4 separate regions of the Homo sapiens genome follow, and all the other regions are linked to region 1. The links come from fine-mapping of genetic effects on gene expression. A gene starts in region 1. Each other region holds a variant in brackets. All regions are shown on one strand. Distances are from middle to middle.

Evidence for each region.
Region 2: its variant is fine-mapped to the expression of WHAMM in platelets (CEDAR, PIP 0.95).
Region 3: its variant is fine-mapped to the expression of WHAMM in whole blood (TOPMed, PIP above 0.99). The same link has a PIP of 0.9 or more in monocytes.
Region 4: its variant is fine-mapped to the expression of WHAMM in whole blood (INTERVAL, PIP above 0.99).

What each region holds. Positions count from the first base shown.
Region 1 is chr15:82,808,324-82,811,008 of GRCh38, reverse strand. WHAMM (WASP homolog associated with actin, golgi membranes and microtubules) reads right to left here and starts at 1,381. Exons shown (of 10, transcript NM_001080435.3): 1 at 674-1,381. The coding sequence starts at 1,282. RefSeq lists silencers at 476-645, 866-975, 996-1,125.
Region 2 is chr15:83,504,223-83,506,907 of GRCh38, reverse strand. All of the region lies in intron 1 of SH3GL3 (SH3 domain containing GRB2 like 3, endophilin A3), which reads right to left. Among named protein-coding and RNA genes, the nearest start is that of SH3GL3, 58 kb to the right of the region's middle. The variant AG/G (reference allele first, on the strand shown) is at 1,384.
Region 3 is chr15:82,846,611-82,849,295 of GRCh38, reverse strand. It overlaps HOMER2 (homer scaffold protein 2), which reads left to right. Exons shown (of 9, transcript NM_004839.4): 9 at 1-313. Among named protein-coding and RNA genes, the nearest start is that of WHAMM, 38 kb to the right of the region's middle. The variant G/A (reference allele first, on the strand shown) is at 1,193.
Region 4 is chr15:82,832,787-82,835,471 of GRCh38, reverse strand. It overlaps WHAMM (WASP homolog associated with actin, golgi membranes and microtubules), which reads right to left. Exons shown (of 10, transcript NM_001080435.3): 10 at 1-2,243. The coding sequence ends at 1,936. It also overlaps a transcript of HOMER2 not described here. Among named protein-coding and RNA genes, the nearest start is that of WHAMM, 25 kb to the right of the region's middle. RefSeq lists enhancers at 2,674-2,685, 1,987-2,685. The variant T/C (reference allele first, on the strand shown) is at 1,457.

The DNA of each region.
Region 1 (2,685 bases):
GTGGACTTAGAAGGCATATTTTCTCCTAAACCCTTCTGTGAACTTGTACTTCCCCTCCCCTTAGGTTCAGTAAGTTTACCACTCAAATAATTACTCTCTCTCAAACTACCTCTTTCAAGCTTAAAAGGGCACTAATGCGGTCATTCCAAACTGATGAATAAAGTTCACCTTCTGCCGGCTTTCCATTTGACCAAGTATATATTACTTAAAACAAAACACCCTATCTCCTAAAAGCCATTTCTTCCTCTAAACCATTTTATCCCATTTGCGACGTCCCCTCATACACAGGAATTGCTTACATTTAGTCCGTGTTATTCTTTCCTACATGGATGGGTTGTTTTCAGTCTTGCTTGCAATATTTCTGGCATTTCCTGTTACAACATCCTGCTCTGCCAGCATCTTCAGGGCAAAAGTTGGGGGCCTAGCCCAGCTCCCAGCTGCAAGTACACTAGGCTCTAACTTCGCTTGTCCTCTCTGCAGACCCTCCCGCAGCTCCCGCCGGTTTCCCGCAGCGGTCCCGCGCAGGTGACGGCACTGGGGAGCCCGCGGCCTTCTCCGCCCGCCGGCTCCTCCCCGTCAGCCGTCAGCCAGGGCTCTCGGCGCCGGGGGAGCCTCCCACAGTGTCCCAGGCCATGGAAGCGCGGACGAACGCCGGCGACCGGGCCTCGCTTACCTGGCGCAGCCGCGCGTCCGCCTCGACCCACCGCGCGCGCAAGGCCCGCTCCCGGAACTCGCGCGGGCTTTCGCAGTCGGCCGCGCCGCCCTCAGCCGGGAAGAGTGCGTCGCGCACTGTGGCGCCGCCGCAGCCGTCGGCCGCCGCGCCCAGATAGCGTTCCAGCTGCCCGCACAGCTCCTGCAGCGCCGCCTCGCCGGGACCCGCGCGCGTCGGCCACAGCAGCGCCCACAGCCCGAGCCCCAGACCCCAGGCCCCGCCGCCGCCCACGTCCAGCTCCGGCGGCAGCCGCGGGAAGCAGCGCTCCAGAGGCGGCCACAGCGCCGCCAACTGCCGGTGCGCGCCGCGGAGCCCCGCGGCCGAGAGCAGGCCGGCCCAGCTGGACGGGGAGACGGCGGCCTCAGGCTTGGGCTCGGGCTCGGGCCCCAACCGGGCCCCCTCGCGCAGCCGCCGCTGCTGCGCGGTACGGTCGTGACAAGTCACAGCGAACTTGCCCTCCGCGCCGTTCCAGGCCACCAGGAAGCGCAGCCGGTGCCTCTCGGGCTCGGCGAAGAGGCCCTCCCGGACCGGCACCCAGCCCTCCAGGCTGTCAGGCTGCTCGTCCTCCATGGCTGTCGGCAGCAGCGGCCCTAGGGCTCGGCGGGCGCGGGCCTGGCCTCCTCGCACCGCCTGTCACGGGACAGTCCGAGCCAAATCATTTTTCGCTAGAATCGAAACCGCGTCAGTGCCCCAGCAGCACCCTGGCCCCCGGCACTTCTGATTGGCTGGCTGCCGGAGGTGGGGCTTACAAGAGGCATTCGGGGTTGGTTGGGTGATAGACGAGAGGGCCAGCGACAACCAATGAAAAGGTGAGAAGGTCTCCCTCAGGAGTCAATCATCTCGCAACCTGTTCAGGAGTCTGGGAAATACAACTCTTGCCTCACCTTTTCCACCCAATACATACGGACGTTGGAAAAATATCTGTTGAATCGGCGAGTTATTGTATTAGTCTCCCACACTAAACTATGAACTTGAGAACAGGGACCAAGCTGATTTTCTTTTCTATCATCAGGGCCCTATTGAGTACATGGTTCACGCCCTTAAGAATGTCACAAATGCGTTGGGGAGATGAAATATAAACTCGATAGTCATTTATTGAGGGCCTCTAAGTGCCAAGTACTGGGCAAGAAGCCGCAAATTTATTTTTGTCAATTCAACAAACTTTTATTGAGTGTCGGCTGTGTGTCAGTATTGAGGGGGTGGAGTAAGAGGGGGAATTCAGGGCACTGCAGCTCCCAACCAGGGTGTTTAAATACAATCTGTGTTCTAACTCTTCACTTTAGAGTTAAGGAAACGGAGGCCCAGACAAACTTAAGATACACCGACACTCGGGCTCGACATGCCCCCCTGGCTACGGAAGGCCTGTTTAAGGAGATATCAGGAAATCCAGTTTACGTGTCAGGGTGGAGCTAAATCTGTTCATGCAACAAGCACCAAGACGGCCCTAGTCTCTGCCTAGGAAATGTGCAGTGTAGACTGAGAAATACAGTCCATGTCAGCTCCCATCCTGGGAGTGCACTGAGACAGGTGGTGGGAATGGGAGGAGGAAAGGAGGGAGATGCCAGGAAGCTGGGATCAGGAGCCGTTTGCCAAAGCAAGGCCTGTGAGGTGTTGATTCGGGAACAAGTGAAAGTGTTTGTGAAGGTTTTGAGCTGGGAAAAGTTGGAATCAGATTTTGTACTTGCTGTTATCCCCAAGGGTAAACAATAAGCAAACGAAAAAATCAGGGCGAAGCTAAAGCTCTAGTTAGGGCATCTCTCTGCCTTGAAAATGACCTCAAGAAATCTAGGAACCTCTGTGGAATGCAACTTGAAGATGGAAAGGTGCCTTTGTCTGAAGGTCCCTCCCCTTTTATGCCTGCTGCCGGTGTGAGGGTTGGGGATTGGGCCCTGGGACTCAGTCACTCAGTCTTCTTGGAGAGATAAACTTTTAGCTGAAGTGATTGATTTTCCCCTATTTTAATATACTATTTT
Region 2 (2,685 bases), 700 kb before region 1:
ACAGATGGGGCAGAGCTGCGATGCTCCCCAGCCTTCAGCCACTCCTTGGGAGCCTTTATCGCTGAAGGAGTGGAGGTTTGAAAACCTATGCATCAGAAAACGCATAGGAGAAAAGGGCCAATTCACACCAGAAACAAAAAATTTTAAAAACTTAGAATAAGAATTTGCCAGACCTCTATTGAAATGAAACCTACAAAATTTTTCTGAGGGACATAAAAAGATTCAAAAGTAAATGGCAAGACATGCCACATTCCTAAGTGGGAACACTAATTTCTAACAAGTCACAGACAAATCTACAACACAGCCAAAAATAATTATGTTAATATTAAAGGGATCCTAAAGCTCATCTAGAAAACAAAAATGTAAAAAATGTCAGGACAATGCCGAAAAACAAGAGTAACGTGCAGGAGCAGGCCCTATCAGATGTGTCCCGCAGAGCACAACAACTACAAGTAGGTGTCAGAAAGTGCCAGAATCAACAGAATGAGCAATTAACAAAAGAGAAAGCTCAGAAATACAGCCAATATATAGGATCCCACTTCATAATACGGGTAGCATTTACAGTAGGAAGAGGTCAGATTATTCTGTAAATTTGCTAACCGTATTCATCACATTCAGGGAAAAAAAATGTTATAACCAAAGCTTTAAAAAAATTTCAGATGAATGGTTTAAATATTTTTAAATGAAAACATAAAAATAAAACCACCACATGTAGGTGAATATTTGTGTAATCTCAGAGTAGGGATGCCTTTCTAAACAGGATTTCAAAAGTCAGGAACTATAATGGCAAAGACTAATAAAATCAACTACGAAAAAAACCTACATGTTAAAAAACAAATATGGGAAAAGATTAATAAACCCTATTACAGTAAAATAATTTCTTTTATCAAAAGACATCATTAGGCTTTAGAGAGTGAAAAGATAAACTACAGAGTAAGAGAAGATATTTGTATAGCATATAACAACAAAGGGCTAGTGTCCAGAATATGTAAAGAACTGCTACAAATAAATAAAGACAACTAATTTCTTAAAAATGGATAAAATACTTGAACAAGCATGTCACTAAAAAGGAAATTCAGGCCGGACGCAGTGGCTCATGCCTGTAATCCCAGCACTTCAGGAGGCCAAGGCAGGCAGATCACCTGAGGTCAGGAGTTCGTGACCAGCCTCGCCAACATTTAGTGAAACCATGTCTCCACTAAAAAATACAAAAATTAGCTGAGTGTGGTGGCACACACCTGTAATCTCAGCTACTTGGGAAGCTGAGGCGGAGAATCGCTTGAACTTAGGAGGTAGAGGTTGCAGTGAGCCGAGATCGCATCACTGCACCCCAGCCTGGATGAGAGAGTGAGACTCCATCTCTCAAAAAAAAAAAAAAAAAAA[AG/G]GAAATTCAAGTAGTCAATCAATAAATGAAAGAGTGCACAACCTCTTGACTCCCAGGGAATGCAAAATTAAAATCCCAATGAGATATCACTTACATACTCACCAGATGGGCAAAAATCAGAAAGACCAATAATACCACGGATTGGCAAGGATGTAAAATAATGGGAACTTTCACGTCCTGCAGATTGGAGTATAATCTGGCATTATTTGATGAGGTTTGGCCATTATCTAGTAATGTTAAAGAAAAAGTGAAGATGCCGATGTCCTTTAGCCAGCGAGTGCACTACAAGGTCAACTTAGAGAAGCCTGTGGAATGTGCACCAGGAAACATGCCCATAATATTCACTGCAGCAGTTTTCATAATAGTCTCAAACCCAGGACAACACCGATGACCACGAACAGGAGAACAGATACGTATGTAAGTGGTGTATTCATACAATGAATCTCTAGATTGCAAATAAAATGAGCGCTGGCTATATGCAACTATAGGGATATGCCTAATATCGAGATAAGACCCAATTTTAAAATACATGTATAAAATAGGTAAAAATATGCAAACCTAAACTATCTTGTTTAGAGATGCATACATATTGGTGGTAAAATTGTAATGATAAAGAAGGAAATTATTATTATAAAAGTCAGAATAGTTATGTTAGTTGTCTATTACTCTGCTAAAAAATTACCCCCAAACTCAGCAGCTTAAAACAGCTCACATGGCTGTTATCTCACGCAGTTTCTGAGAGTCAGGAATCCAGGAGCAGCTTAGGTGGGTGATTCTGGCCCAGGATTTCTCATGAGCCTGCAGTTAAGCTGTGGGCCAGGGCTGCAGTCATCTGAAAGGCAGAGGATCTGCCTCCCAGCTCACCCACATGGTTGTTGGCAGGCCTCAGTTCTCTAAGGGCTTTTGGAAGGAGGGCCTCAGTTCCTGGATACCGGGGCCTCTCCACAGGGCTGCCTGAGTGTCGTCAAGACATGGCAACTGGCTTCCCCCAGAGTGATTCATCCATGAGAGAGTGAGCAAGCCCAAGATGGGAGCCACAGTCTTTTATAACCCAATCTGGAATACAACATCGCACTGTTTCTGTATATTCTATTGGTCGCACTGGCCCACCTTGGAACAATCCTGGGTGGGTATGAAGACCAGAAGGAGAGAATCACTGGGGGCCATCTGTGAAGCTGGCTACCACAATTGTGGCTTCTTCTAGAAAGTTGGGCATAGATTGTATCAGGAAGGAACACACAGGGAACTTCTGGGAAACTGGCAAGATTCCATTGCTTCAACTGGTGGTTGTACAGTTGTTA
Region 3 (2,685 bases), 38 kb before region 1:
CCCCGGGGGGCACAGAGAGAACAACATTCCTCTCTGTCAACATCGAGAGGCTTTAAAACAACTGTTTAGTGGAAACTTTCTGAGAGATGGAAAACAAGCTTCTGGTGGGTGCATTTTCTGGCCCGGAGTTGCCTGCATCCACGCTACTGCCCCCTGCCCCCCGCCCCCCCAGTTTGTACGGTTGCAACAGTGTTCCTTTTCTTGGTTTTAATTTCTGAGCAGATGATTGTGCTGTGGGAACAGCACACAGTGAGGGTGCCTAGCACAATGTCTGGCACAAAGTAGGTGCTTAATAAATATTTGTTCAATTAAATGTGTACACAGAATTTAGTGTTTTAATCAAACCCCACAGCAGAGCTGGGACCCTGTCGAATGATGCACCATCTTTGCTGTGCTGGGTAGTTAACAGACATGAATACCACTGTCTGGTCAAACCCAAGCTGGGGCTCGGGTGGCCCTGGGGCAGGGAGGGAGAAGGGGAAGCAGCAGGAGCTGGTCTCAGGCCCCTGGAGCCCATCCGTGATGCTCTGCCCCTGGGGCTCTCCAGACCCTCGAATCACCTTCTCCCCTAGGAATGGTGACCCAGGGATTCCAGGTATAGGGGCTGCCCAGGGCTTGGTACCTAGGGTAGGATTGTCTTATGGGTCTGGACAGCTGGGAAGAAATCACAGGCATTTCGGGGGGAGAGAGCAGCTCAGCTGACAAGCCTTGGCCCTCATGACAGAGGTGTTCCACCCAGCTCTGCGTCCTGCCTTTTTCAGTTTCTCCTAGGGAAGGGACTGCAGCCATAAACCTCTCCTCTCTCACAGAGCTGCTCAGTGGGGCCAGCGGGCCTGTGGGTGCTGTTGGCATCCTGCCCTGGGAGATTGCCCGTGTGTGGCAATAATGGCTTGAATCCCTGGCCCCACACATCTCTAAATGCCTTGAGCAGGGGGGAGGCTTTGGTGCCCCCTCACCCCTTTGAGAACCACCTAAGAGGACTACTCCTTCTAGAAACCTTCTCCCATGGACGTGGTTAGACTTTCTCCCTGCTGAATTTGGATTAATGAGCAAACAACCCGAGGAAGGAGGGAGATGGGGTCCGAACCCAGGTGCCCTGGGCCCCAAGGTGAACACGAGTCCTCCTGCTCTCCTTCCCTTCCCCTCACGGAGACGCCTCTCTGAGCTGGGGAGTCTTGTTTGGGATGTGGAT[G/A]GAAGGGAAGGCTGGGCATCTGGAGCACCAAGGCACTTTTAGAGGAGCTCCCGCAAGGTGAGTGGGGGCTTTGGTTGAGTACATAGGGCTTTTGGCAGACAGGAAGTGGAAAGCGTGGCCAGCCATCTTTGTGATTCGGGGTAGTCTGCTGCTGGCCCTTCCCTTTCCCCAGAGCTCCAGACGGCTCTCAGGACAGTTGGTAGCAGCTCCCTCCTGGCTGCACCAGGAGACCAGAGAGCCGAGCTGGCTATGAGTCAGCCCCGTGGCCCAGCAGCGGGATAAGGGGATTCTCAAGCCAGCCTGGTCTGCCCAGCAGCAGGCTGGGTGTGTGGCTGCCTGGGAGCAGTGGACACTGGGTTCCAAACACCTTCCGCTGGGGTCTTCAGATGACCTCTGCCTTTATCAGGTGACTTATGAATCTAGAAAGAGCCCGCTTGACTGACAAGAGAATGCTCAGGTGACATGCATAGAATAGTTACTGAAGCCACTTGTACATTCTGATAGCAGTGACTTTAGAAAACTCCAGAAGTGGAGGTGTAGAAAATGTTGGAAGAGCCATTTCCACAGTGGGCTGCTGTGCAGTTGAGACCCATGATCCCAGTTCACCAAGCACTGAAGAGTGTGGTGAGCATCCTGTGGGCAGCAGGTGAGGAACTTGGATTCCTCCTGCTGTGTGTCCAGCTCTACAGCTGTTGCAACCCTGGAGCTAAGAGTAGTAAGGACTCCCTTAAAGGGAAAGGTAAGTTGGGCTTGGCCGTGAAAGCACAACAGCTTTTACAAAAGCACTGAACTTTCCATTCCTTCTGCTTTTCTCTGAAGATCTCAGTGTCTTTTCATTTACTTTCTTTTAAAATAGTGGCCCTGGAGCAACCTGGACGGTGTTCCCTTGAGCTGGTGTGACGTGCCCTCGTTTATTCTGACATCCAGCCCAGTCTCAGTACTGTTGTCATAACCTTACGCCAGACTCAGGCAGAATGTAAGCCATTCACTCGTGAGCATCGCAGCCGCTTGTGCTGCCTGGAAGCTGCAGGGCCAGGACTGCATTTTCAGTTTGCAATTGAGGTCTCCTGATTTTGGTGTTTCCAAGACTGGCTGCTATACCTTGATAAGCTTTCCTTCTGCCTCCATGAAACCTGGTGTCTAAAAAAGATCAACTAAAACTTGGAACCCTTTAACCAAGAGGACCTTTAAAAATAACCTTTCATTCCAGTCAAGACCCAGCTGGATGCATTTTAAAGTTGGGAGTGGCGAGGAAGCCTTCCTAGTGCCGCCCGGGGAATGTAAAACCACCAGAGCAACAGGTTGGGACAGTATGGTCAGGCCTTGGAGGGAAAGAGAACCAGTATCCACACAAGACCTCGAACTTGTGTGGCCCCTCAGTTTCATCTCTCCTGCCTGCCATCACATTAGACTTTAATTGGGTGAGAGAACAGGGCAGAGACTGTCACCTGCATTTTGCAGATGGGAAGTAGAGACAGAGAAAGTGACACGCC
Region 4 (2,685 bases), 24 kb before region 1:
ACTGAGGCCCCTCAGGCTGCTGTGTACCAGTTAGTTAAGACACTGGAAGGCCAGGTGTGGTGGCTCACGCCTGTAACCCCCAGCATTTGGGAGGCCAAGGTGGGAGGATCACGAGGTCAAGAGATCGAGACCATCCTGCCAACATGGTGAAACCCCATCTCTACTAAAAATATAAAAATTAGCTGGGTGTGGTGGCACACGCCTGTAGTCCCAGCTACTCGAGAGGCTGAGGCAGGAGAATCACTTGAACCCAGGAGGCAGAGGTTGCAGTGAGCTGAGATCGTGCCACCGCACTCCAGCCTGGTTGACAGAGCAAGACTCTGTCTCAAAAAAAAAAACAAAAAAACTGAAGTAGGAAGATTTCTGTTCTATATCAATCAGGACTTTCTTTGTAAACGAGGTGCGTTCCTTTTGTTCTGTGGAGACCCAGGAGTAATATCACCAGAGTGAGGGTGATGAGGTTAGTAGGGATGCTCGCAGTCTGAGAAATGAACGGACTGCTTTGCATCAGTCCCTTCCCCTTCCCTGATTTTAAAAATTTAATTTTAAGGAGAAAATACTTCAGCATGAGACTTCAGTTCCTGAGGAAAATAACACTATTGCTCCATCCTTAGTATTCACTTAAACAAATGTTTAGCTAAAATTTTATTAAAAACTTTCAGCCCACCCGGACACGGAAGACTTTGCTTTTACAGCAGCTAAGGTATGTTTTCATTACCCCGTGAGTGATGCTAATGCATTGCAAATAGTTATTATGAGTTTATGTAGTGCTTGGTGCCTAAAATAAATTTCATTTAAATATTTAAAATAACTCCTGAATATAAGCAATTTATTCTGATTACTGATAAAATAACATTCACATTCAAGCCTACAAATCTGAGAAATCATTATTCCATATGCACAGAAGGCCACAGTCAGTAGTCTAATAGTACTGCTTACCAGTGTAGTGTAAACTTCTTTCAGAATCAGGGAACAATTCTAGATCAGCCATGGTGAGAAATAAGTGCTCTTCTCTTAGGCCAGCGACACTTCCGATGGGTCTTGACATCCCACCTATGGGCTGGTGTGTGAAACTCTCATCTCTACGTCCCTCCCCAGTTTTAAGAGTCACCATGTCACATAAAAGCTCCAGCATCAGCCAGGCACGGTGGCTCATGCCTATAATCCCAACACTTTGGGTGGCCAAGGCAGGTGGATCACGAGGTCAGGAGTTCAAGACCAGCCTGGCCAACATAGCGAAACCTTGTCTCTACTTAAATATACAAAAATTAGCCAGGCGTGGTGGTGCATGCCTGTAATCCCAGCTACTCGGGAGGCTGAGACAGAGAATTGCTTGAACCTGGGAGGTGGAGGTTGCAGTAAGCCAAGATCGTGCCACTGCACTCTAGCCTGGATGACAGAGAGATTCTGTCTCAAAAGAAAGAAAAAAAAAAGGCTGGGCGTGGTGGCTCACACC[T/C]GTAATCCCAGCACTTTGGGAGTCTGAGGCAGGCGGATCACGAGGTCAGAAGATCGAGACCATCCTGGCTAACACGGTGAAACCTCGTCTCTACTAAAAAATACAAAAAATTAGTTGGGCAAGGTGGTGGCGCCTGTAGTCCCAGCTACTCGGGAGGCTGAGGCAGGAGAATGGCGTGAACCCAGGAGGCGGAGCTTGCAGTGAGCCAAGATCGCACCACTGCACCCCAGCCTGGGAAGCGGAGCTTGCGGTGAGCCGAGATGGCGCCACTGCACCCCAGCCTGGGCGACAGAGTGAGACTCCATCTCAAAAAAGAAAAAAAAAAAAAATGCTGCAGCAGCCTACACAAGGCCCTGCTGATCTTCCGGGGTGTTATGTGGCCCATCTATCAGCACCCTGTTAGTATGCTTTTCGATAGGTCTAAGACTCACCCACTTTATTCAAGCCTACTGTGGCAGGTGCCTTTGTCAAACTTGAGCCTAACCATCCCACTGGCCAGGGTCCTGCTCATCACTGTCCTCCTCAGAGTCAGCAGACACCCTCTTGATTCTCTGGAGCGCAGCCTTGATGCTCCTCTCAAGGTCACTGGTGCGTCTGTTGCTGGTTGGTTTGCTGCTGGGGTTTGGGCCAAGATCAGGGTGAACTTTCTTCAGTTTGACCCCTTGCCTTATGGCAGCCAGAATGTGCTCATTGATTGAGGCGTGGGGAGGGCGCACCGCCGGCACTTCCACCTTCCGGAGAGGAGCTCTGCCATGCCTTAAGGAGGCCAACACTTCATCCATAGATCCTGAAATTGAATAAGCAGAGCTAGTACTATCAATAAAACACTTTCCCTTCCCAGGACATTACTGCTATGAAATTGTGAAATCTCCTATCAGTTAACACCATGATTTAAACAAATAATCACTTCATTAAGCAAATGCCTTGATTACGTGCTAACGATAAGCTCCCTGGTTGAATCCAGGACAGCTGAATAGCTCATGTTTTAGCTTAACCACTTCCTTTCTGCTAACTTCTTCAAATCCATAGCAACTGACAGGAACAGACATGCACTTTTGTTAGAATGACGGTTTTTCAAGACAAATGTGATCTGTCCCTCCCATCCTGAAGAGTGTTACGGAGGCCTGGGGTGGAATAGTCTCACCCACTGTGCGTGACCTGGATACCTCTGAAGCTGTATCTCCTTCATTACCCTGTCCAGCTAAAAGAAATCTTTTAAAAAAAATTTA